Homo sapiens: one gene and its partner. The protein of the gene in region 1 interacts with the protein of each later gene in a pairwise test. Each region holds a gene or a part of one and is shown in the gene's direction. Other genes may lie near its edges. The genes, in order: RRP7A and CDCA7L.

Region 1 (15,841 bases):
AACACAGTATGGGCAGCTGTGGAGACATAGGATTGGACAAAAATGATCTGATCTAATGCTAGCAGATGGAGTGGGGAACCCAGCAGGGCCTGTCTGGCTAGATTCCTCCTGGCCTCTCTGAGCTGAGTTCCTTCCTTCTGAGTGTGGGGAGGACAGTCTCTGGAATGCGGGTCTTATTATTTTTTGAGACAGTCTTGCTCTGTGGCCCAGACTGGAGTGCAGTGGCGTGATCTCGGCTCATTGCAACCTCCGCCTCCCGGGTTCAAGCGATTCTCCTGCCTCAGCCTCCTGAGTAGCTGGGATTACAGGTGCATGCCACCACGCCTGGCTAATTTTTGTGGTTTTAGTAGAGATGGGGTTTCATCATGTTGGCCTGGCTGGTCTTGAACTCCTGACCTCAGGTCTACCCACCTAAGCCTCCCAAAGTGTTGGGATTACAGGCGTGAGCCACGGCGCCTGGCCTGGAATGGGGGTCTTATGGTCTACAGTCAAACAAAGTAGGCCAGAGAATTTCTTTATGGCCAGTTTTTGCACAGATAGGGCAGAGGGGAAGTTAGAGTCATATTTTAGGTTGTATGGCTGGTTTGGGGGAAAGGGGTTCTGGTTTCTATGACTCACCCTGAGGAAGAGAGATTCTAGTTTCTATGGCCAGCCTCAGGGCAGAATGAGGGGCCACAGACAGGAGGGCAAGAGAAGGTCAGAGAAACTCCTTCGCATGGATGACACAGACCCCCATCTCCAGGCCTGAAAGCACCAGGACTAGGAGGAAAAGCAGCCCCCACTCAAGAAGGTGGCAGCGGGGCACAGATGAGAACAATGCTGCAAAATTTGTGTCTACCCTTGGAGCAGACCAGACCAGATACAGAGTTTCAGCTGACGGGAGCCGGTCCCTGGCTGGTGCTACCCTCCTCCCCACCCTGGCCTGGAGTCCTGCAGCATGCCCCAGAAACAGTGCCAGCAGCCAGGCCGGAGGAAGTGGTGCCCAGCCGTGCAGACACGGCTGGCTGGAGGGAGCCCTGGACATTATGACTGTCATGGGGCCTTCGTCCACTAAAAAAAAAAAAAAAAAAAAGTAAAAATTGTATATTATGCCTGCATGGCTAAAAAGATGAAAATAACCAGGCTGGGCTGCTTATAAATCAGTTACATGTTTTTTTCTGGTTTTAATAGAAATTAAGACGTTTTTGTGGGCCCACAGTGCCCCTCAGGCACAGTGCCTGCTGAGCCGAATGTGGATGTGGGCTCTGCCTCTGGGGTTAGTGTCAGGAAACTCCTGCTTCTTCCCTTGCAGGATCAGCAAGGGGTCACTCTGGCTTTCCTCATGGCAAAGAAACTTCCCATGGGCACCTGCACACACCCCAGGCCTCCTCCCTGCCAAGGCAGGGATTCCTGTGCCACCTGCTGGGGAGGGCAGCCCAGCAAATGAGCCAGCTGCATGGGTGGGAGTTGGTGACTGTTCTTCGTTTTCTGCAATGGTTCATTTTTTGTGTCAACCTGTTGGAGCCATGAGGTGCCCAGTATTTGGTTCAACATGATTCTGGGTCTGTCTGTGAAGGTGTTTCCAGAAGAGATAAGCATTTGCATCAGTAGACTGAGTAAAACAGATGGCCCTCCCCAGTGTGGATGCGCCTTGTCCAATCCATTGAAAGCCTGATGGGAACAAAAGACAGAGTGTGGTGACGCATGCCAGTAGTCCCGACCACGCAGGAGGCTGAGGCAGGAGGATCGCTTGAACCCAGGAGTTGCAGACCAGCCTGGGCAACGTGGCGAGACCTCATCTCTACAAAAACATAAAAAAAAAAAAAATTGAGACGTGGCACACTTGTAGTCCCAGCTACTCAGGAGGCTGAGGCAAGAGGATCATTTGAGCCTGGGATATCGAGGCTACAGTGAGCCACGTTCACACCACTGCACTCTAGCCTGGACTACAGGGCAAAAGTCTGTCTCTTAAAAAAAAAAAAAAAAGGCCCGGTGTGGTGGCTCACTCCTGTAATCCCAGCACTTTGGGAGGCCAAGGCGGGTGGATCACCTGAGGTCAGGAGTTCAAGACCAGCCTGGCCAACATGGTGAAACCACGTCTCTACTAAAAATACAAAAATTAGCCGGGCATGGTGGCAGGCATCTGTAATTCCAGCTACTCAGGAGGCTGAGGCAGGGAGAATTGCTTGAACCCGGGAGGCGGAGGTTGCAGTGAGCCCATATTGCACCACTGCACTCCAGCGGTATACTCTGGGTGCCATCACTTAGCTCCTCGGACCTCCTCAGTATCCTAATCACCCTCAGCAGATGGCCTGGAGATTGGCTTCTTAGTTTTAAATTCTAGGACCATCTACAAGCTTGCTTTTGGTAAGTCACTACAGACAAATACCAGTTAAAGCACTCAGGAAGATTCAAGCTCCAGTGAAATACTATGCATTGCCTAAAGCATATTCCTGGGTGAAAGAGCAAGACTCCTTCTCAAAAAAAAAGAAAAGAAAAGAAAAAGAAAAAGTAAGATAGAATTCACTCCATCTGCCTGACTGTGAGCTGAGCTGGGATACTGGTCTTCTCCTGCCTTTGAACTTGGACTTGGACTGCAATGACACTGTCGGCTCTCCTGGTTTTCTTTTGCTTGCTGACTGTAGATCCTGGGACTTCTCAGCCTGAGCTCAGCCAGGGCTGCATTTAGGCAGAAGTAGGGCTCAGGGTAATTAGATGGGGCAGATGGGGCTCCTCATCTATTTTGGGGCAAGTCAAGCTAAGACACCTCCTTGAGAATGGCTCTGCAGAGAACTGCCTGACCCCAGGCAGTAAGAGGTGAAGCTGCCACGCCTTCTCCTAATTCAGGAGCAGAGTCTTTGCCTTTAGAAATTCCCTCTGCTGGGCCGGGCGCGGTGGCTCACGCCTGTAATCCCAGCACTTTGGGAGGCTGAGGCGGGTGGATCACGAGGTCAGGAGATCGAGACCATCTTGGCTAACATGGTGAAAACCCGTCGCTACTAAAAATACAAAAATAAATTAGCCGGGGGTGATGGTGGGGGCCTGTAGTCCCAGCTACTCAGGAGGCTGAGGCAGGAGAATGGCATGAACCTGGGAGGCGGATCTTGCAGTGAGCCAAGATCGCACCACTGCACCCCAGCCTGGCTGACAGAACAAAATCTTGTCTCAAAAAAAAAAAAAAGAAATTCCCTCTGCAGTTATGTTAAGGGTGGGATGGAAGTAAGTATAAACTTCCATGCAAAGCAAACAAATAGGATATAATAAGGATTTGGGGCTGGGCTGAGTGGCTCAAACCTGTAATATTAGCACTTTAGGAAGCCAAGGTAGGAGGATTGGTTGAGCCTGGAAGTTTGAGACTAGCCTGGGCAACACAGTGAGACCCCATCTCTTAAAAAAAGAAAGAAGACTTTTTAAAAGTGTTACTAGGCCATTACTGTTGATTCCCCATTATTCGGGATTCGATCATCCAGTCTGAGGATCACTGAAGCCTTTTCTAGGCTGTTTTGATTCATCTTTTGTGTGTGTGTGTGTGTGTGTGTGTGTGTCTGTGTGAGACAGAGTCTCGCTCTGTTGCCCAGGCTGGAGTATGGTGGCGTGATCTCAGGCCACTGTAACCTCCGCCTCCTGAGTTCAAGAGATTCTCCTGCCCCAGACTCTTGAGTAGCTAGGATTATAGGTGCGCGCCACCACGCCTAGCTACTTTTTATATTTTTAGTAGAGACAGGGTTTCACCATGTTGGCCAGGATGGTCTCGATCTCTCGACCTCGTGATCTGCCCGCCTCGGCCTCCCAAAATGCTGGGATTACGGGTGTGAGCCACCATGCCTGGCCTTGACTCATCTTTTCATTCTTTCACTAATCTTGGCATTTCCTAATATTAATGAAAATAAAAGGAAATGAGAGTGAAACAACAGGTTTACTTTCCTCTATTAGCTTCTGAGGGAAAAGGAACGGACAAGAGCAGGTTGGGCGACCAGCTGGCATTTGCCCCTCTGTCAGGTGACCTCGACATCCCCGCATTGCAGAAAGGACCCTGAGAGCTGACCTTACCTGTGTGCGTCTCCCCAACGAAAACTCTTAGCAAGTCTGACTTACAGACCACTAGAAACCCGATCGGGACCCAGAAACCCCACTCCCAGGTATTCACCCAAGAGAAGTGAAAACTTCCATTCATACAAACACCTGTGCGTGAATGTTACAGCAGCTTATTCATAATCGTCGAAACCTGGAAATCGCCCACATCCTTTACTTGGTGAATAGATAAATAGACCACACTCCATCCAGACAGTGGAACATTTCTCAGCAATGAAAAGGAACCATACAACAATGTGGGTGAACCTCAAATCACGATGCTCAGTGAAAGAACCTGGACTCGCACGATTCCACTTTCAGGACTCGCTGGAAAAGCAACGGGAGAACAGAGCAGTGGTTGCCAGCGGCAGCACGGGAGTTCTGGGAGTGACGGGATGTTCCCTATCTTGACTGTGGTCATGGTGATAGGACTCTATGCATTTGAACTATATACCAAAAGAAGTGAATTTTACTGTGTGGACATTTGAAAGTATTTTTTAACCATTAAAAAAGAAAAATTGAGGCTGGGCACAGTGGCTTATGCCTGTAATACCAGCACTTTGGGAGGCCGAGGCGGGCGGATCACAAGGTCAAGAGATCGAGACCATCATGGCCAACATGGTGAAACCCTGTCTCTACTAAAAATACAAAAAGTAGCCGGGCGTGGTGGCGGGTGCCTGTAGTCCCAGCTACTCAGGAGGCTGAGGCAGGAGAATGGTGTGAACCCGGGAGGCGGAGCTTGCAGTGAGCCGAGATCACACCATTGCACTCCAGCCTGGGTGACAGAGTGAGACTCCATCTCAAAAAAAAAAAAAAGTGACTTCAATTTTTCCTTCTCCTCCTCTTGGCTTGTAAAAGGGTTACCCCTGCGTGGCTTCAGAGTGTTTAAAATCGCTTACCTCCTCTTGAGGAGGTTTAACATTCTTTCCTTTTTTGAGACAGAGTCTTGTTCTGTCACCCAGGCTGGAGTGCAATGGCTTAATCTCGGCCCACTGCCACCTCCACCTCCCGGGTTCAAGGGATTCTCTTGCCTCAGCCTCCCAAGTAGCTGGGATTACAGGTGTGCATCACCACACTCAGCCAATTTTTGTATTTTTGGTAGAGACGGGGTTTCATCATGTTGCCCAGTCTGGTCTCAAACTCCTGGACTGAAACGATCCACCCACCTCAGCCTCCCAAAGTGCTGAGATTACAAGTGTGAGCCACTGCGCCAGGCCTCAATATTCTTTCTAATAAGCTCACTTGGGTTCTTATTCAGTGTATTCCTTTTCCCAGGCTGCTGTAACAAAATAATATAAACTGGGTGGCTTAAGACAACAGAAATTGATTTCTGGAGGTGAGAAGTCCAACACCAAGGTGTCGGCAGGGCTGTGCTCCCTCTGAAGGTTCTAGGGAAGAATCCTCCCTCACTTCCTCCGGCGTCCAGTGGCCACAGGCATCCCTTGGCTTATAGCCTCACCACTGCCATCTCTGCCTCCATCTTCCTATGGCCCTCTTTCCTGTGTGTGTCTCCTAGGCATCTTATAAGGACACCAGCCATTGGACAAAGAGCCCACCCTAAATCCAAGATGATTTTATCTTGAGTTGAAAGGACCTGATTACATTTGCAAAGACCCTGTTTCCATATTCAGGTCACATTCACAGGAATGGAAGAGTGGTGGGGGAAGGGAGAGGTTAATACTTGAACATGGCTGGGCGCGGTGGCTCACGCCTGTAATCCTAGCACTTTGGGAGGCTGAGGCGGGCAGATCACGAGGTCAGGAGATCGAGACCATCCTGGCTAACACGTGAAACCCCCGTCTCTACTAAAAATACAAAAATTAGGCCGGGCGCGGTGGCTCACGCCTGTAATTCCAGCACTTTGGGAGGCCAAGGCAGGTGGATCACGAGGTCAGGAGATCGAGATCATCCTGGCTAACATGGTGAAACCCCGTCTCTACTAAAAATACAAAAAATTAGCCAGGCGTGGTGGTGGGCGCCTGTAGTCCCAGCTACTCAGGAGGCTGAGGCAGGAGAATTGCGTGAACCCGGGAGGCGGAGCTCTCAGTGAGCCGAGATCGCGCCACTGCACTTCAGCCTGGGCAACAGAGCAAGACTCCATCTCAAAAAAAAAAAAAAAAATACAAAAATTAGCCAGGCGTGGTGGCGCACGCCTGTAGTCCCAGCTACTCGGGAGGCTGAGGCAGGAGAATCACTTGAACCCGGGAGGTGGAGGCTGCAGCAAGCCAAGATCGCCCACTGCACACCAGCCCGGGAGACAGTGTGAGACTTCATCTCAAAAAAAACATACTTCAACATGTCTCTTGGGGAGCACAATTCAACCTCTATATTCGGTAAGACTCTCTTAGACAGGGCAGGGCAACCTGGCCCTGCACTCCTTGGCCATCCTCTGCTGTCACCCCCAGACCTCAGGCACGGCGGCCCCTCGCTCTCCCCCGTCTTTTCTCTCCGGGCCTCTGAAGTCACCAGTTCTCCATGCCCAGCCGTGGCCTGTGGGAGGGAGCTGGGGGGGTGAGCTGGAGCTGCCACTTAGCGGCAGAGTCGCAAACTCACCGTTCCTAATGAAGCCCGTCGCTTCTCCCTCCTCCTCCTCCCAGCAAGCAGGAAAAAAAAAAAAAGTTGACTACTGAGACCACATGCTAGGAAATCCATGGGTGGGTGCTCTAGTTGACAAGTCCCACTTGAGCCCAGCCATATTCGGCCATTCTTGCACTGCTATGAAGAAATACCTGAGACTGGGGAATTTATAAAGCCAAGACGTTGAATTGGTTCTGCAGGCTGTACGGGAAGCATGGCTGCATCTGCTTCTGGGGAGGCCTCAGGGAGCTTTGACTCATGGTGGAAGGCGAAGTGTGAGGGGTCACTTCACATGGTGAAAGCCTGACCAACAAAGTGGGGGGTGAAGCAGCCACCCATTTTTAAACAAACAGATCTCGCGAGAACTCGCGATCGCAAAGACGCAAAGACGGCGCCAAGCCATGAGGCCCCCATGATCCAAACACTTCCCACCAGGCCCCACCTCTAGCACTGGGGATTACAATTTAACATGCGATTTGGGCGGAGACAAATACTCAAACTCTATCACCAGCCATCCCTGCTGAGATGCCGGACTCATCTGCTGAGATGCTGCGATGTGAGTGAAGTGACTTGGAACCTTTAGTGCAGCCCATATGCCAGCTGAATACCATCAAATGCCCTCAGTCAGTGCCACAGGGAGAAACAAAATCTCCTAGCAGAGCATTGCCCAAATTCCTGACCCATGAAATACATGGGCAGTGGTAATTATAAAGAAAGTGGAGTTAATTGATCGAGTGGCATCAGTGGGCTGAAGGAAGAAAACAACAGGCCTCAGGACAGCCATTTATCAACTTATAGCCCAAGGTGAAAATCAGGAGGGGCTTCCAGAGACGTGTTTAAAGACAGGTCACATTGTGCTGATAAAGGCCTAGAACCTGATGAGAACTGTGGAGTTTGAATCAGGGCAGATGAACGGCTGTGCTAAGTGCTGTGCTCCAGTCAAGGAGCACAGAAGTGAAGGAGCGGACACTGTCACCTAGGGCAGGGAACGTCTGGATAGATGGGCTCAAGAGTCTTGAATTCTAGGCTGGGTGCAGTGGCTCACACCTGTAATCTCAGCACTTTGGGAGGCCGAGGTGGGCAGATCATCTGAGGTCAGGAGATCAAGACCAGCCTGGCCAACATGGTAAACCCTGTCTCTACTAAAAATACAAAAAAGTAGCTGGGTGTGGTGGCACATGCCTGTAATCCCAGCTACTTGGGAGGCTGAGGCAGGAGAATTGCTTGAACCCGGGAGGTGGAGGTTGCAGTAAGCTGAGATGGCAGCACTGCACTCCAGCCTGGGTGTCAGCAGAGTGAGACTCCGTCTCAAAAAAAAAAAAAAAAAAAAAAAAAAAAGGCTTATGCCTGTAATCCCAGCACTTTGGGAAGCCGAGGTGGGCGGATCACAAGGCCAAGAGATCGAGACTATCCTGGCCAATATGGCGAAGCTCTGTGTCTATCAAAAATAAGAAATTTAGCTGGTCATGGTGGTGCACACCTGTAATCCCAGCTACTCAGGAGGCTGATGCAGGAGAATTGCTTGAACCCAGGAGGCGGAGGTTGCAGTGAGCGGAGATCGCGCCACTGCACTCCAGCCTGGCGACACAGCGAGACTCCATCTCAAAAAAAAAAAAAAAAAAGTGATGTTGTGTGGCCAGTCCTGATATCCATCGAGATGGCTCCTTGAAGCGTGGAAGCAATACATGAGAGGGAGATAACAGAACGATGGTGGCAGGGCACTGAGAAGGAGCCAAAGGCCTCGGGGAGGGGGATGTGCAGGCACAGATTTATTATGCAACATCTGAGAAGCCAGATGACCGTATTTCTGGAGGGTTCACCAGAGACTGCTTTGACTAGTGGGGGGTCTAGGCATCAATGGGCAATCGGCATGGCCGTCCTCTGAGGCCAGGGTAGAAGAGGGCAAATAGGACTGGAGCCGGGCTCGGAAAGGTCAGCAGGAGATAGGATTCCAGAGAGCAGAGGTTCGGTTGATGTGACTGTCAGAACAGGAGCAAGGCCAGAGTGGCTGCCAGGGATCCTGGGCGCACAGGAGTCTCTGGTGAATGCTAGTAGACCACGGTATTCCCAGGGGCCACGGAAGCCCCAACACTGCTTGACTGCGCTAAGCAAAGAAAGATCAAAAACAAAAAACGAGCGAACAGGACAGTAATGGCAGCTGCTGATGGAAAATCCCAACCCCTCATCCAGTTTCCAGGCCTAAGCTAGGCCTCAGAACCAGAGGTCACTGACTGAAAGGGAGGCTGGGTCCCCTCCAGACCACAAATATTTGCAGTAGTAGGCTCCTAATCTTTCCCCAAAGGGGCCGACAGCATTTCCAAGAAGCAACTGTACACTGGGAAAAGAGAAATAGTAGATACATCAAGGGCTGGCGGGTACACAGTCTGAGAGGCCCTTTGGAGTCCAGAAAAGTGGAGTCCTTGGACTTCATTTCTCCCCTATCTACACTTGCTCCCTTGGCGATCACACCCTCTCATAACTTTCTTTTTTTTTCTCTTTCTTTTTTTTTTGAGACAGAGTCTCGCTCTGTTGCCCAGGCTGGATTGCAGTGGGGCGATCTTGGCTAACTGCAATCTCCGCCTCCTGGGTTCAAGCGATTCTCCTGCCTCAGCCTCCCGAGTAGCTGGAATTACAGGCATGCACTACCACGCCCGGCTACTTTTTGTACCTAGTAGACACGGGGTTTCACCATGTTGGCCAGGCTGGTCTGGAACTCCTGACCTCAAGTGATCCGCCCCCCTCGGCCTCCCAAATTGCTGGGATTACAGGCATGAATCACCGCACCCGGCTCCTCTCGTAACTGTCAATAACCTATCCATGGCCAGTCCCGTGTGTATTGCTCCAGGCCTGACATCTCTGATGTTCAGTCTGTTCAGTCTCATATCTAAGTGCCCACCTGACATGTCCCCTGAGTGGCCTAATGGGCATCTCACCACGGCTCACAGAGAACTGATCTACTCCATTTTCACCCCCAAGCAGGCCCCTCTCCTGCAGTCTTCCCATCTCAGTCAATGGCAACACCATCCTCTTAGTTGCTCAGACTGAAAACCTAGCAGCCATCCTGGATTTCTCTCACACTGCCTATTCAACGTGTGAATGCATGAGTGGAAAGCTGAGTTCGCACTCGTGACTGGCCGGGGTCAACTCTGACATTCGCTCCCACTTTCGCGCGCTGATTTATCTCTGAGCGGATGAAGGTTGGGCCATGGCGGGCGGGGCCGGGGAGGCGGGCTTGGAGTGAGGGGGCGGGGCAGGCGCCACGAAAACGCGCTCGCGCCGGCGCCGAACCGCAACTCCCGGCGGCCCCCGCGCTCCCGGGTGGCAAGATGGTGGCGCGCAGGAGGAAGTGCGCCGCGCGGGACCCGGAGGACCGTATCCCCAGCCCACTGGGCTACGCAGGTGAGGGGCTCCGGGACGCGAGACCGGGGGCGGTCAGGCATCGCCGGGAGGTGTTTGGGGGTTGGCGACGGCCGGGGGTCCCCAGGAGCGGCCGCACGGTTGGGTGTGAGCCCCGGTGGCCCGTGGCCCCAGGCTCCGCAGGTCTTGAGGCTCCGGGGTCCCGAGGACCCAGGCGGCGCCCTTCTGCCTGCTCACTCTCCCGGGGCGAGCCCAACTTGGTCCACGCTTCCCTTGGGTGAGCCCGCCTCTGTCCACACTCTCACCCAGGACAAACCCATTTCCGTCCACACCCGCTCGTCCAGGTGAGCCCATCCCCTTCTCATCGCCTCTGCTCCTAGTCCATCCCCCATCAGCTCTTACCTGGGCTGTTATAGGCCCTCCTACTCGGTTGCCCTCCTTCTCCTCTTGCCCCTGCTTCTGTTCTCCACCCACGTGCCAGAATGTTCTTTTAAGGACATTTAGATTCGATCATGTCTGCCGCGCCCACGATAGGCGCCACACCTACTGCATTCCCTCCAGTGGCTTTATCAGGTAGCTTCTAAAACAAAAACCAGACTTCTTAACCTGTGTGGGCCACGTGGTCTGGCTGGTGCCGACCTAAAGCTCTTTCTGTTCCTCTGAGGGAACATGCTTTTTCCCCCCTCTGGGTTTTTGCACGTGCTGTGCCGGTTTGTTGCACAGTGGCGTTCTGGCCTGAGCTTTAATGTTGCTTCCTCAAAGAGGCCATCCGTGATGGCCTATGGAAAGAAGACCTCTGCCACCCCATCACCCTGTAATGTTTCTTTCACAATTGATACAAGTTTGCTGTATGCTTGTTAATTGTCTTCTCCGTTATTGCAACTGAGCTTCCTGAGTTCAGGGACCGCAGCTCTACGCCAACCGGTACTGTGACGGAGGTGTGAGAAAAATAGAAGCAGTTCCTAGCTTTATGAGGATTACAGTCATGGGTGTGCCAGCGATTAACCAAAGAATCTCATCAATATAGCCTCCAGACTGTTAAGAGAAGCTGTGAAGGCACAGGCAGTGGGATCTGAGCTGGCAGGAGGGGCGGAGGTGATGCTAAGGCTCTCCTGAGGAAGCGAGGTTTGAGCTAAACCTGAGGTGAGCGGGAGGGAAGAGGGTGACACGCCAGGTAGAGAGGCCAGCATGTGTGAGGCCCTGGTGTACCCGGGGGAACAGAGAATCCAAGGTGCTGGGGGAAGATGGTACGAGAAGAGGTCACAGTGACAGGCAGGGTCTCACGGGGCTTCCAGCCATGGTTAGGATTTTGGCGTTGACTCCAAGAGCCGCAGGGTTCGAGCTTCCCTCTCATTGCGCCCCCATCTGTAATCATTGCCCATTTATCTTCTCTCTCCCTGCACCGCCTTGGGAGGCCCTCCTGGGCAGACTCTTAGAGCCCGCACAGGCTTTGCCAAAGAGTAGGGTAAGGGGGGTTGGTGAAGGGATGGATGGATCGATGAACAGATAGGACTAGACAGGGATGTGGAGAAAGGAAGTTGTGTGAGTGTCTCGCTGGCCTCAGCTCAGGGTAGCCTGGCCATCCCTCCCCTCCCATTTCCTTTCCAGCTATTCCAATCAAGTTCTCTGAAAAGCAACAGGCTTCTCACTACCTCTATGTGAGAGCACACGGCGTTCGACAAGGCACCAAGTCCACCTGGCCTCAGAAGAGGACTCTTTTTGTCCTCAATGTGCCCCCATACTGCACAGAGGTGAGCTAGTGTCTGTCTGGGAGGAGACCTGTGGGCTCAAGGTGGGGGCTCCCATGGCCTCCACCAAGTCCTTGGTGGTGAGACGGACACAGCTAATGGGAGCCCCAGAGGAGAGTGTCAGGAGGGCTACCGTGATCTCCAGTCAGGAAACTGGCTTTTTAAAGATGTCTTTAAAAGTATAATCCTGCCAGGCACGGTGGCTCATGCCTGTAATCCCAGCACTTTGGGAGGCTGAGGCGGGCGGATCACCTGAAGGGAGGAGTTCCAGACCAGCCTAGCCAACATGGTGAAATCCCGTCTCTACTAAAAAATAAAAAATGAGCCAGGCATGATGGCATGTGTGGGTAGTCCTGGCTACTAGGGAAGCTGAGGCATGAGAATCCCTTGAACCCGGGAGGTGTAGGTTGCAGTGAGCCAAGATCGCGCCACTGCACTCCAGCCTGGGCAACAGAGTGAGACTCTGACTCAAAAAAAAGAGAAAAAAGTACAATCCTAAGTAGCCCAAGGCATTTTTACATATTACCCAAAGTTGTCTGAATTACGTGTTTTCTTCCAGATTGTACATGTCCATAATTTAAAAGTAGGAAAGTATAAGAAAATAAAAAGTGCCTCTAATTCTATCCAAACACAACTGTTAATTTTTTTTTTTTTTTTTTTTTTTTACAAAAACTAAGCTAAGGGAATTGCTGGATTTATTTATTTATTTATTTATTTAATTTATTTATTTATTTTGAGACAGAGTCTCCCTCTGTTGCTCAGGCTGGAGCACAGCGTTCACAACTCACTGCAACCTCCGCTTCCCGGGTTCAAGTGATTCTCCTGCCGCAGCCTCCCAAGCAGCTGGAATTACAGGCGCCCACCACCATGCCCGGCTCATTTTTGTATTGTTAGTATAGACAAGGTTTCACCATGTTGGCCAGGCTGGTCTCGAACTGCTGACCTGAAGTAATCCGCCCCCTTCAGCCTCCCAACGTGCTGGGATTACATGCGTGAGCCACCGCCCCTGGCCAAGGGAATTGCTGGATTTGTTTTCAAAAAAGAAACCCTAATTTGTAAAAGATTCCTCTAAACTTAGAGAAAAAAAGAAGCATGTAGAAGAGGGGGTGTGAGTTCTGACCTTTTTTGAAGTGCAGCATGTGTGCCTGGAAGGGCCCCAGTGGCAAGTGTCCAGCTCGCTGCATCCCAGAGACAGAACATAGCTGTGTAGTCAGCGCCCAGGTGGAGACACAGCAGCACATCCCAGAACCCCCGCTGCCTCCACCACAGACAACCACCATCCCAACTGTCATAGCATAGGGTCACTACTGCTGATTCAGGTAGTAAAACTTGTCATAGGAAATCAGAATAACAGCAAGAATGTCCCCACCTGTCTCCAGTGAGAGAGCAGGAATATGCCGGGCACAGTGGCTCACGCCTGTAATCCCAGCATTTTGGGAGGCCGAGGCGGGCGGATCACCTGAGGTCAGGAGTTCAAGACCAGCCTGGCCAACGTGGCAGAACCCTGTCTCTTCTCAAAATACAAAAATTAGCCACGTGTGGTGGTGGTGGGCGCTTGTAATCCCAGCTGCTCGGGAGACTGAGGCATGAGAATCACTTGCAACCCGAAGGTGGAGGTTGCAGGACTCCAGCCTGGGCTACAGAGCAATACTCCAACTCAAAAAAAAAAAAGAGCAGGAATATCAACCTCCATATTGTCCCTGGGGAACAGGTCGGAGGCCATGGTGCCCACAGTCTCCCGGCTTGGGCAGATGTGGCTGTGGCTGAGTCCTTCAGCGGCGCTGGACCCCTGGCAGCGCCACCCATGGTGCAGGGAGGCTTTGGGATGGCCCTGCGGATGCTCACACTTGGCTTCCCTCTCCCTGCGGCAGGAGAGCCTGTCCCGCCTCCTGTCCACCTGTGGCCTCGTCCAGTCTGTAGAGTTGCAGGAGAAGCCGGACCTGGCTGAGAGCCCAAAGGAGTCAAGGTCGAAGTTTTTTCATCCCAAGCCAGTTCCGGTGAGCCGCCAAGCCCGGGGTTCCACTAGAGTGAGGGGGGTGGGGCACTGTCCCCAGTGTGTTGGGGGAGCTGGCAGTGGGACATCAGAGCATTCTCTGGTCCTGAGCCCATCCTCACCGTGTGTGGTGTAAGAGACTGTCTGGGTGACAAAGCCTGCGATTCTTTGCCAGATTTGCCACATCCTTGCACTTCCTGCCTGGCTTTTTCTGTCCCGTGTTAAAGCTCACGGACCGTCTCTGCTGGCCACCTGCAGGGCCTTCCCCGGCTCCCCTCCTGCTTCCCCACTGAGGGAGCTCCTTCCCCAGGCTTGGGGGCCGGGTCTCCAGGAGCACTGTTGTTCACAGCTTTCCCAGTGGCCCTGGAGCCCACACCTCCTCCCCACACAGTGGCATCTGGCATGGTGTGTGCGCCCAGGCCTGGCTTCCAAAAACCTGCCCTGGCCCAGGGCGACCCCTGTGTTTCACCGCATCCCTCCCGTGACTGGAAGAAAAGAAGCCTCTGTATCCCCTCTTCCTGGGGAGGAGTTGGGAACAGCCGTCACTTCCCGCAGAAGCAGGATTACTGGAAGTGTGGCTGCCTCTGACCTGGATTATGGGATGGCCTGTGGTTCTCTTCATGGCTCAGGAATAGCCTAGCACCATCTCCCCTGGTGTAGCTACCACCTAGGCTGAGGGCAGGCCTGGAGACCTTGTGCCAGACGTGGGAAGGAGCCCCCAACCTCTGACATCTCTCTCTCTTCAGGGTTTCCAGGTAGCCTATGTGGTGTTCCAGAAGCCAAGTGGGGTGTCAGCGGCCTTGGCCCTGAAGGGCCCCCTGCTGGTGTCCACAGAGAGCCACCCTGTGAAGAGTGGCATTCACAGTTAGTACTGCGGGAGGGGTCTGGCGCCTCCTTTCTGGGCTCCGGGTTGGCAGGACACTCTATGGGGACAGTGTCTGAATGTCACAAGCCAAGTCCATGCTCCCTGAGAGCAGCATGTGGAGGCCTGGGCAGGAGGACCATGGGGCTGTGTCTGGGTCCCCAGGGAGTCATTAGCCTGAGCCCCTGGCACAGAGCGGCACAGGCATACTGGGCAGGCAGAGCGAGGGCGCAGCTTGCAGCCCCTGGGATCTCCTTAGCACCTGTGCCCCGGGCCCTGTGGGAAAAGGTCCCAATTTGCCTGGCAGGCCCTGGGGTGGGGCCCAAATGCCAGGCCTGAGGAAGCCCCGTTTCCCTGGCTCCCTTTTCCTCAGAGTGGATCAGTGACTACGCAGACTCTGTGCCCGACCCTGAGGCCCTGAGGGTGGAAGTGGACACGTTCATGGAGGCATATGACCAGAAGATCGCTGAGGTAGAGGCCCCGCGGGGTCGGCCGAGCCCCGCATCGCCCGTGTGGCTGTGGGAAGGTGGCGCCCCAGAGGGAGGGCAGTGGTGGCCTGTCCTTGGCCACTCTGTAGAGGCCAGGCTCCCTGTTTCCCTGCTGGATCCTGGGCTGCCTGGCTGGGTGACACATGTAGTCTCCACATGTCCTACAGTGGAGAAGGAGGCAGTGCCGGCAGGTCCGTGCCCTCCCCGCCATCCTTAGCCCCAACACTGTGCTGGGAGGAGGGGAGCAGCCCTCCCCTGCGGGGGCTCAGGGCAGTTCTGACTTTGGGAGGAGGGCGTGGAGGGCGCGCTGCTGGAGGCTGCAGGAGGTCCCACCGGAGGATGGGATCACCTTCCTTGCAGGAAGAAGCTAAGGCCAAGGAGGAGGAGGGGGTCCCTGACGAGGAGGGCTGGGTGAAGGTGACCCGCCGGGGCCGGCGGCCTGTGCTCCCCCGGACTGAGGCAGCCAGCTTGCGGGTGCTGGAGAGGGAGAGACGGAAGCGCAGCCGAAAAGAGCTGCTCAACTTCTACGCCTGGCAGCATCGAGAGAGCAAGATGGAGCGTAAGCCACCCCCAGTCCATCCTCAGACCCCTCGGCCTTGGCCCCAGCCACGGATGAGGCCTGTGGCCAGTGCTCCTGAGGGCGGGCGCTGGACTTGGTGGTCGAGGAGGGAGGGCGTCCCTAAGCACGGGGCTCGCACCAGACTCTGTGGAAAGAGGCCCAGCCTGGCAGCACCCTGTGTGGCGGTTCCCCATCACCCCCTAGGGG
Region 2 (15,400 bases), on another chromosome or scaffold:
GCGTTAATTACTTTGATCTCTAGCACTCACAAGTTAGAGTTCTCTGACAGGTAGATTCCTGGAGGTTCACATTGTGTCCTAGTAGTAGAATGGCCAAAATCTCTACCCTTCAGTGGCATTTTCTTCTGAGTTAATTGTGGCACTCAAAATTCCTCATTCTGCCTTGACCATGGCCTCTCCAAAAAGGCAGCAAATTAAACCCACTTTGCTTCCACTGGGCAAGTCCAGGAAGGGAAGCAGTTAATTATATGTAAGTGAAGTGCCTGCTTAATTACGTGGGCCACTGTAAGTTCTGGCCTGGTGGGAGCTGTGCTTTCTGAGATCTCTGGAGGCTCCCTGGTCTCTGTCGTCCTCATCTCATTTGGCATCTCCACAGCAGTTGACCCCACCAGTAGACCTCCTTCTAACCACCTGGGTTTCTTCCTCTCTGTTACACCTTTTGCTCTTTGTTATTATTATTTTCTTTCTTTCCAAGATGGAGTATCATTGTGTCACCCAGGCTGGAGTGCAGTGGCATGATCTTGGCTCACTGCAACTTCTGCCTCCCGGGTTCAAGCAATTTTCCCAGCCTCAGCCTCCCGAGTAGCTGGGATTACAGGCTCCCACCACCACGCCTGGCTAATTTGTGTGTGTGTGTGTGTTTTTTTTTTTTTTTTTTTTTTTTAGTAGTGATGGGGTTTTGCCATATTGGCCAGGCTGGTCTCAAACTCCCGACCTCAGGTGATCTGCCCGCCTTGGCCTCCGAAAGTGCTGGAATTAGAGGCGTGAGCCACTGTACCTGGCCTGCTTTTTGTTACTGTCACTTGTTTTCCCTGTTCGTGTCCCTAAATGCAGATGTTCTCTAAGGGTTTGTCTTCAGTCTTCTCACTTAGTGAATCTTGTCTGTTGTCCTGCTTTGAGCTGTTACTGTATTCTTTTGTGGAGCTTGTCTTCTCTCTCCAGCCCCAGGTGGTTTCTGACTACCAGTTGGACTGGTCCTGGTTGCTAAGGGAGATCTGAAACTCACTTCTCCTTCCCTTGGTTGTCTTTCTGGCTTCCCCCTTTCCCCATCTTGATTTCCATCTTTTGTTCTTGGCCTTCCCTCCCCTCTTCCATCTCCTTGACTCCCGTCCAGGAGTTGATGAAACTTCTGCTGTGTTCCTGGTGTCCATCCTTCCCTTCCCTCTGCAGCTGCCGTAGCCCTCGTAGCTCTTACCCGAATGCTCATCCCTTCCTACTAGGATCTGTTATAGGATTGACCTCCGGTCAGCTCCTCCCTTAGCCCTCCATCTGAGCACAGTCAGGCGGTGGGGAGAGCAGAGCCTGTTGGATCCACCTTGAGGAGCATTTGAGCAAGGCAGAACATGTCTAAAGGGCCGAGCACAGAGCCTGGCAGGCACCGGGCATTAAGAAACAGAACAGCTGCTTCTGCTGCTATGATGACTCCTTTTGTAGTCAGGTGTGTTCTCCCCAGGGAGGACAGTGTGCCAACTGCTTTTCATACAGATACTGCATTTAATCCACAGACCTCCCTGGGAAGCTGCAGTTTTGCAAGTGATGAAACTGACGTTCAGGAAGGTGTAATGACTTGCCCAAGGCCCCACATCTGGGAAGTACCAAGCTGGGATGTTCCAAATCCAGGGCCACCACTTCTCAGCCTCTTACCCCGCCGGGTCTCTTTCCTACCTGCTATGCTGCAGGGCACAGGAACTGAACTGACACTCTCATTATCCACTGTTCTGCCCTTTCTGCCCACTGGTCCATGCTGTTCCTGCCTATCTGTGCTCTCACCATTTTTCTAGCCTCTACCGTGGCTCACATCCAGTTATGCTACTTCTTCCATGAAGTCTTACTGGATTTTCTTTCCCTCCGTGTGCCATATTGCTTTGTATCCCTTAGAGCACTGACCCTCACCAGGGTTATTCGTGGACCTGTCTGCCTCCCTGTTAGATTATAAACTCCTTAAGAAGGGGAGACCTCATACTTGAATGGTGCTTTCTAGCTTCCCTGGCTCTGACTTTTCGTCCTCATGTATTGTTCCTTTCCTCTGATTTCAAGCATCCAACACCCCACCTGACTGTATACAGTGAGCACGGGGGGTGTTGTTTGCTGGGTGCAGTTGAAATGGGGTGCTTGTCTGGCTGTCTGGTTCAACAGGCCATTGCTCTCTGGTCTGTTTCTTCCATGTCACATGGACTTCAAAATAAGTTTATCCACCTATGTTAGCTTCTCCTCTGATGTGTTATTTGCTTATGGTCCTGATCATGGTAGATGACCAAGGCCTATAGCATAGCACCCAGTATTGATTTTGAAGATGAATGAACCAGTGCCAGAGAGCAATCAGCAGTGCCAGGGTTTCTAACTCAGAATGCAGTGGAGCAGTGTGGAGTGGAGATTGGCATCATACAGACCCACATGGAAAACAGTACTTACACACTTTGGAGTAAGGAAACTAAAGCACAGGCCTCAGTTCAGGACAATGGTAAGTTGTTTTTCTCTATCAGGACTGACCATCAAAGATGGTAATCTCTCCCAAGATGCCCATTGCCCTGGGAGGCCAGCACACAGGATCAAAATAGCCAGAAAAACTGGAAGATGGGAACTCATAGCTTCAAGGCTTGCCCTGTTCCCTTCAGGCCCTAGGCAGGGGCTTTAGGTAGTTGATGAAATTTGCACACAGAAATACCACTCTAAATTAGCCTGCAGGGGCTGGCCCAAGGCTCTGTGAGCCAGATGTTTCTTGCACTGAGAGGCCTCAGGTGCATGGTGGGTTTCCTTAGCAGCAGCTGTGTACCATTCTTCCTTAATAATCAAGCCCTGGCTGCTTCTCTACCCCGACCCCACAGGCTCATGATCCATTTTAACCAATAGAGAGAAGCTGCATGAACTTGCACACAGTATGTGTATGCTAACTCTGGTCTCCCTTAAACACGATTTGAATTTCACTTTAAAGAAACTTCCCTTTTGTGTGTGCAATTTTTTTTCTCAAGCAGCTGCACTACAGCTATCAACAAAGGAACAAAGTAATTCAGCTCTGAGCAAACTCACTCCAATTACCCATAATAATTCATAGGAGACATTTTTAAGCTTACAGAATGCTAGATGTAGGCATTTCTTTCTGTGTGCCCCTGTAAGTTTTTCCACTTGTCTATTATATCTATCTTTCCCCAGAGATATATGAGCTCAAAGAAGTATATAATTAAAGGCGGGGAAACGCAGTGGGGTAGATACAGATTCCCCGCCAAGTGTGGTGTTACAAGGGGTCATTGCTATATCAGAGATGGGGGGAAGAGACGTCAGAGGAAACTGGGGACAGACTCTAGTCTTGATGAGGTGTGGCGGGCTTGCAGGGGGCTGGTCTCGTGGGTCTCCCTTTGGCCTGCAGTTTGTTATTTCCTCTTTCTTTCAAGTATACTATTAAGAGAGTTGGGTTTCCATCTTTGCACTATTTCAAAAGAAAAAGTATTAGAAAATGCCTTTTCTTAAAGAGTCACATTGCATCTTTCCTTCTGCTCACTTGCCACCTAGCCATGGTTGTTCACCTCTCACCTCCTGCACGAGAGAAATTCCTGGGGGTGACCTTGAATGAGCTTTCCATCAGGCCCCCATGGTGTCTGCTCATGGAGCAAGTCTAGGCTCTCTGGTGGTGGGCGGTGGGGGCTGAGAGAGGCCCCAGCCTTTTCCTACAGAGAAGCTCGCTGTTGGTGAATGGGAGGCATGCTCACCCACTTGGAGGAGACTCCGGCTTTGAAAGGCTGTTGGAAAGGGAAGCCAACACGTGGGAGGGAGCCAGGTTTTCTCCTCATATCTTCTTTCCATGTGTTTTGGTTCTATGTGAAAGCAGACGTGTCTGGTTGCCAGCTTTGGCAGGAGAAGCTGAATTCCATGAGCACTTACCAGTCACATTAGAAGCTGATTGAGACTACACCCAATTTTTAAAAATTGTCTGTCTTGTAGGTCTGAATTTTGTAAGCTTTAGAAAATGTGTATATATGTAATATATACGTGTACGTATGCGGGTTTTTTTGAGAGAGGGTCTCACTCTGTCACCCGGCTGGAGTGCAATGGTGTGATCTTGGCTGCAACGCAGGCTGGAGTGCATTGGTGTGCAGCTCACTGCAGCCTCGACCTCCCAGGGTTGGGTAATCCTCCCACCTTAGCCTCCCAAGTAGCTGGGACTACAGGTACATGCCACCAGACCCAGCTAATTTTTGTATTTTTTGCAGAGATGAGGTCTCACTATGTTGCTCAGGCTGGTCTTGAACTCCTGAGTTCAAGTGATCTGCCTGCCTCGGTCTCCCAAAGTGCTGGGATTACAGGGTGAGCCACTGTACCCGGCCAGTGTTTTTTTTTTTTTGTGGTAAAATACACATAACATGAAGTATATCATTTCAGCTGTTTTTGATGTGTACAGTTCAGTGCATTAAGTACATTCACATTGTTGTCCATCCATTTTCGTCATCTCCATCAGAAGCTCTGTACCCGTTCAGTAGCTCCTCATTCTACCCTTCCCTGGTAACCTCTATTCTACTTTCCGTCTCTGATGTATGTGTGTCTTTAATTTAGCAGGATGTGCGCTTTCATTCCAAATACTTCACAGAAGAGCTAAGAAGAATTTTTATAGAGGACACTGACTCAGAGACTGAGGATTTTGCAGGATTTACGCAGAGTGATCTGAATGGAAAGACTAACCCAGAAGTAATGGTAATAATTACAACAGGAAGGGATGTGGGTGGTAACGTTTTTAATCCTGTTTCTGAAAGAGTTTTACTTGTAAGCAGTCACTTCACAAGTGAAAAGATTTTTCTTACATATTTATCTTACAAGCAATTAACATAACCTAAAAAAATTGCTCCTGGAAGGCTAATCCCTGGTCCACCAGTCCATTATTCTCTTAGAGAAAATCCATTCATCTTCTCCTCGTGCCTTAGGGGGTTTTTGGGGATGTGTCCCAGGCGTCCTTTATTGTCCTTCTCAAAGAATTTATCTCTCTTGGCCAGGCACGGTGGCTCATACCTGTAATCCCAGCACTTTGGGAGGCCGAGGCGGGTGGACCTGAGGTCAGGAGTTCAAGACCAGCCTCACCGATATGGTGAAACCCCATCTCTCCTCAAAATACAAAAATTAGCCGGGCGTGGTGGCGGGCACCTGTAATCCAAGCTACTCGGGAGGCGGAGGCAGGAGGATTTCTTGAAGCCGGGAGGCAGAGGTTGCAGTGAGCTGAGATTGAGCCACTGCACTCCAGCCTGGGTGACAGAGCGAGACTCCATCTCAAAAAAAAAAAAAAAAAAAAAAAAAAAAAAAAAAAAAAAAATTATCTCAAGAGTTCCTTAAACCTCTTTTATCTAAAAGTTTATCTTAGATGACAACTTTCTTGAGATACTTTCTTACTGTGTGTGAAGTGACAGTTTTTGGTTTGAAGTTAATTTGGCAAAAATTTGGCTGTGGTACAAACTTGGTGTTCCCCATGCATTGTGGATTTGGATTTGTCATGCTTTTTAGTGTTAAAGATGACCCAGGCCTGCCTGGATTCTGGAGGGAAGTCTACTCTCAGCACTTCCTATGAACAGACTTGTTAGTTATTTGTTTGTTTTATCCTGCACAGTTAGGCTAGTTTACTGCCCACTCGTGTTTGAACCTGAAGGTAACTTTAAGGCACAGCCTTCGGATTTAAGTGCAGAAATGTTTTCTGCTAAAAATAGCATACATTTATGCAAAAAATAAACATGCTACTATCTTCTTCAGTATGAAGATGGAACGTAGAGTTTACGCCTCTTCACAGCCAGAAGCTGCTAAAGACTAACTTTTGGCAGAGACTGTGTAGAGGTATAAATAAGCCGTGACTCCTAGCCTGCCATGTCCCTCACTTGTCCTAGGAGAGAATGTAGAGCATAAAAGCCCGCATGGTAGGCTGCTTCGTTTGATAGTGATTTTTTGCTATGAGTAGCAACATAGAGCTGTGCCAGCCTGGAGGCCCCAGGTCTCCTTTGGCTTTCTTTGCAGAAGCTGTTTGTGTGGCAGTTCCATCAGTTCTGGCCAGCAAGTCCCTAGCTTCTTGCCAGCACGATATTAAGATGCTTCTAAAACCCTAATGGGCATCATCAGTTAGCAATGTACTTATTTTCTGTTCTTTAGTGAAGTGATGTCTGGTTATTCGAAGCATTTGCATTTCTAGTGAGAGAAAGTGAATTACCCCAGAAGTCTTCCCTCCCACCTGCCCCCAAGTCTATGGACTGTGTGATGTAGTTACATAGATCATGATATAGCTTACAGTTCAGCACAGGCCCTTGCAAATTTTATTTTAGAATCCAGTGAGAAGAAAAGCATTGTTGCCTCCCAGCCCACCCTCCTGCCCACCCCTGTGGGAACTGGCGAACCTATCTTTCTTGATAATGGGACATTGCTGTAACTTGGTTTCCAGGGGTCTGCTGGCCGGATGCGAAATAACCACATCCATGTACTACACTTGTGCTCTTCTCTTGGGTCTGATTCTGGGCTGCTGTGTACCATTTGTTCTTTCCTTCCTTCAGGCCTCTGTAGTGAGCTGTTCCACATCTGGTAAAGAGAGGCCTGTCGATGATGAGGATGGTAGATAAATGGATCAAAACTGAAGTTCTTCCCTGACAGTGTCCCCTGAAATTGGGTTCCTTTGCAGTACACCATTTTGAATTCTGAAGCTATTAATATGGGAAGTTCAGGGTATTAAAAAATAGATAAATCAGTGCCATATAGTCTTACTCCTCACTTGGCTTGGTGTGGATATACCAGGGTTGGCAGTTATCTGCGTTTTTTTTCTCCCTGTGTCTTATTTCTAACTTTAGTCCAACGAGAGTTTGGGGTTGATGGTCGTCACCGGGGAGGAAGCAGAGTCCCTGAACTGATCCTGGGTCCGTATCGGTGCCATTCCGTGTTCTTGGTAGATTTTCAGAATTCCCAGATAATGGTTCCCAAAGTTTTCTAGCTTCTGGTCATGGAAGGATGCCCAGAAGACGTCCTAGATCTTACATACTTAAACCTGTCTCTGTACCACTGCTAAGAGTCCCGTCACATCCAAGCTGTCACCTAGGTGATGTATCCCTGTTACTGCCTTCCATATTTACTGTGTTCTCACTTGTAAAACAGAGCAATGTTTGAATGCTGGAGACCTCTGCCATGTGGAATTTGAAAATGTCGGGTGAGGATTTCTTGAGTTGACTGAGTGGTGTTTTGCTACAACCTGTAGAGCTTTGTGACCTGGTTTCACCTCATGGCTCTGAGGGTTCCAGAGAAGGGAAAGGTGCCCCTTGACTGAGGACGCAGTGGCAGGTCATCTGCCTGTCCTGGGTCACTGCCCTGAGGTGCAGTCAGCTCTCCCGCCCTGTTATTCAGGAGTCTGGTTCCTGCTATTTAGAGGAGACCAGTCAGCATTTTTCCCCCGTTGCGTCCTTTCCTGTCTGAAGATCACATCTGTCATGCTGCTGTCTCTCCTTTTCTGTGACTGTCTCTCCTCTTGCTGGTGCTCCCTGGTTGTCCCACGGTGGAGGAACCCACCCTGTCAGTGTTTTGCTTACAGCCCTCATGCTCTGAATGGAACCCATTTCTGTCGCGGGTATGATGGTGCACAGTTCAGTAGTAGGTTGCCTGCTCTCTGATTTTATTCATCAACCAATTTCTTGCACATTTAAAGGAAATTCAGAGGGAACTCATAATATGAAGGGGAAGCTTTTCATTTTTCATGTTTTTTCTCATAATGCTGTCAGTTGTTTTAAATGCATGTCTTTTTTGTGGGTCTGTAACAGTGTCTTTGTGCTTTTTCTTGCTCTTATTTTATTAGGTCGTGGAGTCAGATTTGAGTGATGATGGCAAAGCATCTTTGGTGAGCGAGGAAGAGGAAGATGAAGAAGAAGATAAGGCTACCCCTAGAAGAAGCAGGTCTAGAAGAAGTAGTATTGGTCTTCGAGTAGCCTTTCAGTTCCCCACCAAGAAGCTGGCCAACAAACCAGATAAAAACAGTTCTTCCGAGCAGTTGTTTTCTAGCGCACGCTTACAGAATGAGAAAAAAACAATTCTTGAAAGAAAGAAAGACTGTAGACAGGTGATACAAAGGGAAGATTCTACCTCTGAGTCTGAGGATGACTCTCGGGATGAGAGCCAGGAGAGTTCAGATGCTTTGCTGAAAAGGACCATGAACATCAAGGAGAACAAAGCCATGGTGAGGCTTCACGGAGGGCGTCCTGGGAGTTGGCACCAGGCTCTGGCAGCAGTTGCTGGGCTCCCAGAACCACTTTGCTCCTACAGCTGCTGCTGTTGCTTTGGCTTCTGTCAAGAAAATATACTCTGGGTATTGTGTATCCTTTTACTTTTCCAGAACCCAGAGCAACTATTACATGATCAGCTCTGGTTTGGGAACAGAAAGAGATTCCCCAGCACCATTTTTAGCCCCTACATGGTGCCATAATGCTGCTTACTGTTGACCAAGCTAAGTTCTAAGTATATAGTTGTGTTGGGGATGAGAGGGGCTGAACAACTAGCCCGTTCCCAGCAGAGTAAAGCAGGGGAAGTGGGATGTCACCAAGTCCACTGAGAAGTTGCAAGGAGCAGGTTGGGCAGGTAGCTTTTCACCACAGAACCACTCTTCTATGGTGACCAGCACTGGTTCTGAGACTTCTGAAGGAATGGAAGAGGTCTAGGAATTAAAACAACCTCAACAGTGTTAATTCACTCTACATTGTCTTCATTAGAACAATGAATGGAACCAGGTGAAATCTTTGTTACATATATTTGGTTTTTCTGTATATAATCAATTACTGTTAATCTGATCATTGTAGAGAATCATTGTTTGCTTCATAATTGTTTATCTACAGTTTTTTTTTAAATAGTTCTACCACTTATCCCTTTTAGCATTTTGGTAATTTTTTAATCTTTTCCTTTTAAAAAAAGAATGATGCAGTGATACTGTATATGCAAGCTTATATGTCTAATATAAATTACTTACAAAAATGGAATGCCTACTTTCGGATTATTTTTATCCTAAGAAACATTTTTACTTAGCTAAGGGAAATTTTCAGCACTGTATCCATCTGCATCTTTAAAATAAGCTATTTTCTTTATGATTTTTTTGGTGGCACTCATATAATTGTATAAACTAAAACGAATCCTAATTAAATTCTCTGGCATATTAATGCCTATTATTTGGTATTATTAGTTCACGTAGGAATATCTTCATAGATTACTTTGATTGATGAGAAATTAATCTATTTAAAGAATCAGACTTTTGGAGTTCTAAATAACCATCGAAATAATCTAGTTGAGCTTTTTCTTTTTTGAACATCCTGAAACTTGAGACTCACGTGTGCAAAATGAATTGTCCCAGGGTCACACCGCCTTGGATTAGCCTCCGAGTCGGGATCGGAACCTCATGCTCCAGGTCTTGATCATTCCAGGACTGTTTTCATAGTGTTGTGTTGTCCTTATATATAAGGAATAGGCTAGTGTTCATTCATATGAATGATGACATCAGCATCTCAGGTCTGGAGGTACAATCTTTACATGTGAGGTTAAAAGTATAACTGTTGTGGGTTATATAAACTATTCAAGTTAGGTTTCTTATGGTGGCAAAATGGAAGACTTGAGATAGGTGTTGGATGACCTAAACCTGGAGCCCTATTTTTGTAAGATTCTTTCTTTTGTTCTGAACTTCAGCTTGCCCAGTTATTGGCGGAATTGAACTCGATGCCAGATTTCTTCCCAGTACGAACCCCAACCTCAGCTTCTGTAAGTAGAACTCCTTATAATTATACCAATACTGATATATGGTGATCAGCCACCAGACGGCTTTTATTCGAGAGAGTCCCCAGTTGTCTCTGTCTGTGCTCTTGATTTCAGAGGAAGAAGACAGTGAGGCGGGCCTTCTCGGAGGGACAGATCACGCGGCGTATGAACCCAACCCGGAGTGCGCGGCCTCCTGAGAAGTTTGCTCTAGAGAACTTCACTGTCTCAGCCGCTAAATTTGCGGAAGAGTTTTACAGCTTCCGAAGAAGGAAGACAATTGGGGTATTTTCTGACTAATACATGAATTAGTTTTTGTCTGAGCTACCATCCCTCCAAACGTGAACGCACGTCACTGTCACCCCAGGGCTGGTTCTGACCCCGTGGGTCTGCGGCAGCTGAGAACTTGCATTTCTCTCTGCTTCCCAGGTGATGCCATTGCTCCTGAGATCACACTTTGAGAAGCAGCCCTGGTCTAAGCTGGAGGTCACAGAGAGAGTCTTTTATCCAAGCCGAGCTGAGAAGCAGCTCATTTGTTAGGACCCTGCTTTAATCTCTGCTGCAGGCAATAAAGAAAAGTGCAGTGATTCCTCCTTGCCTTTCTGTTTTAGGCATGAGGCGTTTCAAGCGCTTTCAGTTTGGAGGGAGCAACTGTGGACCCATTTGTGGGTTTGGCTGTTCAGTGTGGTTCACCTCTCCACAGAGTTTACAGCAAAGAACCAAAAACCTTGAGTTCCTCCTTTATGATTGTATCGCCTTGCTGAGAAGGAAGCTTGGCAGGTGGCAGGAGCTCAGTAAATAACTAAATGAAATGGCTGCAGGGAAATAGAAGAGGGACGGGGTTAACATTAATGGTGCTAGATCTTTGAGAGTTTAAAATATTTATAATTTTTTTATAACTGCTCAACACATCTCCATGTTCTGCTTGTGTTCATTGTGCAGGGGAAATGCCGGGAGTACAGACGACGTCACCGTATATCTTCTTTTCGGCCAGTGGAGGATATCACCGAAGAGGACTTAGAAAATGTTGCCATAACTGTTCGAGATAAAATCTATGATAAAGTTCTGGTAAAGTATACATTAATTGTCATTCTTATTGGGAGTCGAAGGCATTGGTATTGAAATCTCACTTGTTTTTAAACTCTATCAGGGCTTATGCCATCTCACCAAGGGCTCAGAGCCAGGCTCTGAATTGGAGGGTCAAAAGTCAGCTGTACCTGGGAAAGGGGAGGCAGCCTAGTGCAGTAATTCCCATCTGGACGGCGGTCTCTCTTAGGGATGCGTAGAATCTGGGGGAAGGGAACGGTATAGTTTAAAAGGGATTTTTATATGTAACTGTTAATGGTTTAAGCATATAGTTTTATGTTCTAAATATTGAAAAAAGTATATTTGGGGGGTAATATAACCATAGAAATTAAAGTTTGGCAGAATATCTTTGGTAGGAAATGGGTTAAATTTCTTCTAAATGGTGATTTAGAGGGAGGCTTTGCGTTCTGCATTTTTTTTGTGTTTTTCTGGATATGTAACGGGACACTGTCAAGTTTTAAATTTAGTTGCCAATATTTAAAAAAAAATAGATCTCACATTGAAGGTATCCAGGTCTGCAGAGCTAGGCTGGGGCCGAGGTGATGCCACCCAAGGCTCATTGCCCCTCAGTCACCTGTCACCTTTCAGGGGCTCTGCCACCCCTGCCTCAAGCTTTTCTCTGGTCTCTCTTCCTGACAGCCTGATCATTTCATTCCTTCTGGGTCTCTGCTCAGCCTCATCTGACCTAATATGTTTCTCTGGCCACAGACCTGTGATGGTTACATTCTAGAGCAGTGGTCCCCAACCTTTTTGGCACCAGGGACTGGTTTTGTGAAAGACAGTTTTTCCATGGATTTGGGGGGCAGGAAGGGGATGGTTTCAGGATGAAACTGTTCCACCTCAGATCATCGGGCATTAGATTCTTATAAAGGGTGCACAACCTAGATCCCTCACATGTGCAATTCACAATAGAGGGTTTGTGCTCCTATGAGAATCTAATGCTGCTGCTGATCTGACAGGAGGCAGAGCTCAGGCGGTAATGCTCGCCCGTCCGCTGCTCACTTCCTGCTGTGCAGCCCGGTTCCAAACAGGCCACAGACTGGTTCTAGCCTGGGGGCTGGGGACCCCGGTCTAGAGACAATGCTGTGGTTCTTAGGAAAACAGTCCTGCTTGATTCGAGGAGACGGGGGTATTTCTTCATATACTTGGAAATGCACATGGTGGCATCTGGCCTCATTGGGCATCAGCATATCCCTGTGTTCACCTGCTCACTGCCTTCCCCCTGTAGGGTAACACGTGCCATCAGTGTCGACAAAAGACCATCGACACCAAGACAGTGTGTCGGAACCAGGGTTGCTGTGGTGTGCGAGGACAGTTCTGTGGACCATGCCTGCGGAACCGCTATGGGGAGGATGTCAGATCGGCATTGCTGGACCCGGTAGGAACAGTGTTTGCATTTGTTGTAAATTGTATTGGTGAAGGAAGCAAGCTATAAAGATGGGCCTCCTGGGTTCTCACTGGGAACTAGGGAGCTCCAGAACTCTGGTTTTTCCCTTCCATTTGTATCTTAAGGCTCCAGGGAAAATGAAAAATAGGGATTCCTTCTGGAAGGAGAGCAAGCTGACCAGTGAATAGAAGAATTAATGTTGTTAGATTTTCCATTGTCAGAGCAAAACTTGCTTACAGTCCTCTAGTTTTATGCAAGTAATCCCTGTACCTGTCCTTCAGCAAAGTGATTTCCCTCTGATTTGTTTTGTTTTTCCTGGGCCAGGCTGAGAGGGAGGTGGAGATTGCAGTATAGAGTGCTCTCTGTGTGCCTGGCACTGTGCAAGCTGTCGCTCACTCTGTTACCATAAATTTGTTTAATCCCATGAAATAGGTGTATAACCTCTCTCAGCTCCCTCGGTAAAATGAGACATAGTATCATGGTGAGTAGGCACGACCTTGAGCCTGGGGCAGTCCTGCTCCCGAGTGTGACCTCTTAGGCAGCAGTCATGGGGTAAATATATGGTCCTCAACTGACAGACAAACAAACTGCTGCTCAGGTTAGTCATTCAACAATAAGCACACATTGAAAGGGCTGAAATTCATACCTTGATATTTTGGAAACCTTGTGCTCCTAAACCAGGGCTGACATCCTGGGCCTGTGACCTGCATGCTCGCACAGGGCCCTGTGCTTGGCCAAATGCTTGTGAAAATCTCCATAATTTTTAAGCAAGGAGCCCTAAAAGGTGTCATTTTTCAGTGTTTGCATGTGACGTGGGGTGATTCAGCCTTCCTGCCTTGTGAGGAGCCCCCTGGGACGTAGACTGAAAGATGCCATGTGATTAAAGGTTGGAGGAGAGGCCAGCTGAGCCATTCTGGATCCGAATCCCAGTTCTTGCCAGACCCTGTAGATAATGAGCGAAGTGTCTGCTGTCATCTCTCTGTTAGGATTGGGTGTGTCCCCCCTGTCGTGGGATCTGCAATTGCAGCTACTGTCGGAAGCGTGACGGCCGCTGTGCCACAGGAATCCTCATTCATCTGGCCAAGTTTTATGGTTATGACAATGTTAAGGAATATCTGGAGAGGTAAGTAAGTCTCTAGCAGCTTACAAAACAGCTTGAAATCTTGAGGCTGAGCACAGGAGACCCTCTGGGCAAGTAGTTGTTGCCTTCCCGTGTGACTTACTTACTTATATAAACCACGAGTACCATCCATTCTGTATCTGTTTGCATTGGAAAAGCTCAGGCCTGATATTTTCCCTATTAGGGAATCTTCTCCTTTGCTAGATTTTTCAACTCAACTCCACGTTGCCTTTAACCAAAATTTCTCCTTGAGGTGTATGACAGAAATGGAAGGAACAAACAAACAAGGCAGGCTGAGGGGAAAGACACAGATTATGAAGAGGCAGCCATAATCCTAGTGCAGAGAGAGAGTTCAGGGCAAGAGGACAGAATGTGAGTTACAAGTTTCATTTATGTAATTAATAAACTCTGAATCGTGGTTCTGGAATGCGGGAGTGAGGCAAGTCATGCTTGGGGCGTACTACACCAGAGGGTATACGGATATTGATGCATAAATTGTCAGGATTTCGAGTGTCAGGAGATCTGGGTTCTGGCTTTGTACTCTTAGATGATTGTGGAATCTCTCAAGCCTAGAATGCCATTTGTGTATTTGTACTACTTTACCAAATACTTCTCATCTTTTTCCCAGCTTACAAAAGGAGCTGGTAGAAGACAATTAAGAGGAAAACAAACAGAACCAGCCACCTCACCATAGAGTACTCCAACAAGACATGCATACCATTGGTGCCTAAGAAAGATTTTTTTACAGTTGTGTTTTTATACAGAAATTCTTTGTAGAAATTACTATTTTTTGTTAAAGATTGTTTATATGCTTACAAAGATTTCTCAGGAAGACAGCAGAGCAGAGGAATCTATATAGATGTATGCACAGACCTGTCTGTATGCTGAACTTTGTTAAAAATATCTGCCAGTTATTAAAAAGCACAGTTTAAATGGGGTGGGGTTAAAGTTCAGGTAAGTAAGTTAGAGAGAAAACATTGTATGATCAGCTCCTGCACTTGATCTATCTATCTTTGGCTTCCCAAACAGTAACTCACTCCAGGCCAAGTGTGCCTTAGCACGAGTGACCACAGTTTAATAGACCACACACATCGTTTAACCTGCTCTTGGTCATTGGAAATTTACACTGAACAAAGTGCAATTAACTGTAGAACAGTTTTATTTTTATTAAAACTTGACTGAACAAAAGGGGACCATCAACATTGTAGACACTGGACACTGGAGGCCTTACAGAGTGCTAGCCTCTTCCTTCAGGACTCACCTGGGGCCTGCTGCTTTTATATTTTGAAAGAGTTTAAGGGCTAATAATTTAATTTGTTGTTTGTTAAAAATTAAAATCTCCGTTCTTTCCGGCTGCATTGCTTTTGCATGTTCACATATGATGTACTTTTATGATGTACTTTTTTTTTTTTGAGATGGAGTCTTGTTCTGTTGCCCAGGAGGGAGTGCAGTGGTGCAACCTCGGCTCACTGCAACCTTTGCCTCCTAGGTTCAAGTGATTCTCCTACCTCCTGAGTAACTGGGATTACAGTCGTGTGCCACCACGCTCAGCCCTGAGTTAGTTTCTAGTATTTTTTTCTGACTTTCACTCTAAGGATAGCGTTGAAAAAAGAATGCACGTGTGAGTTACTAAAAAGTTAGAATAATGTGCATGGGAACAGTGCAGCAACATGCTAGAAAATCCTCACTGCACTCCAGCAGAGGCTAGAGGAATGCCAGTGTTACCTTACGCTTCTAGAAGCAGAGCCACTCCAGCCAGAACCCATTTTGCAGTCTTCTCTTCGCTCTTCAGCCTGAAGGTCCAGATGTAGCTGGGGCCTCTCAGTTTGGTTCTATACACAGGGCACTCGTAGGTCTGTTTGGTTTCTTGTCTGTCCACGGGGGTGGCTTTTGCAAAGATGACCGGCATAGGGCATGCCAGCTCCTTGAGACGGGCTTCAACAATGGTTCCTGCTTGGGTGTCCCAGCGGGCGCCTATGGCAAAAACACAGCGGTTGCAATTGTGTGGCAGCTTGCTACTAATGATAATGATCAAGTAAGTTGTTTGATGCAATAAACATTCAACATTCTGGTTTTGTCAT

Evidence for each region.
Region 2: the proteins of RRP7A (region 1) and CDCA7L interact in binary tests that used the Homo sapiens proteins (3 or more experiments, as listed by UniProt).

The regions. Positions count from the first base shown.
Region 1 is NC_000022.11:42,513,899-42,529,739, reverse strand, and holds the start of RRP7A (ribosomal RNA-processing protein 7 homolog A), read left to right. Parts: upstream 1-9,943; 5' UTR 9,944-9,953; coding exon 9,954-10,026; intron 10,027-10,386; exon of another isoform or gene 10,387-11,324; intron 11,325-11,592; coding exon 11,593-11,735; intron 11,736-13,603; coding exon 13,604-13,729; intron 13,730-14,471; coding exon 14,472-14,589; intron 14,590-14,960; coding exon 14,961-15,058; intron 15,059-15,435; coding exon 15,436-15,634; intron 15,635-15,841. UniProt on the Homo sapiens protein: Nucleolar protein that is involved in ribosomal RNA (rRNA) processing. Also plays a role in primary cilia resorption, and cell cycle progression in neurogenesis and neocortex development.
Region 2 is NC_000007.14:21,900,900-21,916,299, reverse strand, and holds part of CDCA7L (cell division cycle-associated 7-like protein), read left to right. Parts: intron 1-4,545; coding exon 4,546-4,683; intron 4,684-7,792; coding exon 7,793-8,170; intron 8,171-9,660; coding exon 9,661-9,732; intron 9,733-9,843; coding exon 9,844-10,011; intron 10,012-10,668; coding exon 10,669-10,794; intron 10,795-12,040; coding exon 12,041-12,190; intron 12,191-13,185; coding exon 13,186-13,322; intron 13,323-13,947; coding exon 13,948-13,978; 3' UTR 13,979-15,045; coding exon of another isoform or gene 15,046-15,293; 3' UTR 15,294-15,400. Other genes in the region: DNAH11 (dynein axonemal heavy chain 11), read right to left, coding at 15,046-15,293. UniProt on the Homo sapiens protein: Plays a role in transcriptional regulation as a repressor that inhibits monoamine oxidase A (MAOA) activity and gene expression by binding to the promoter.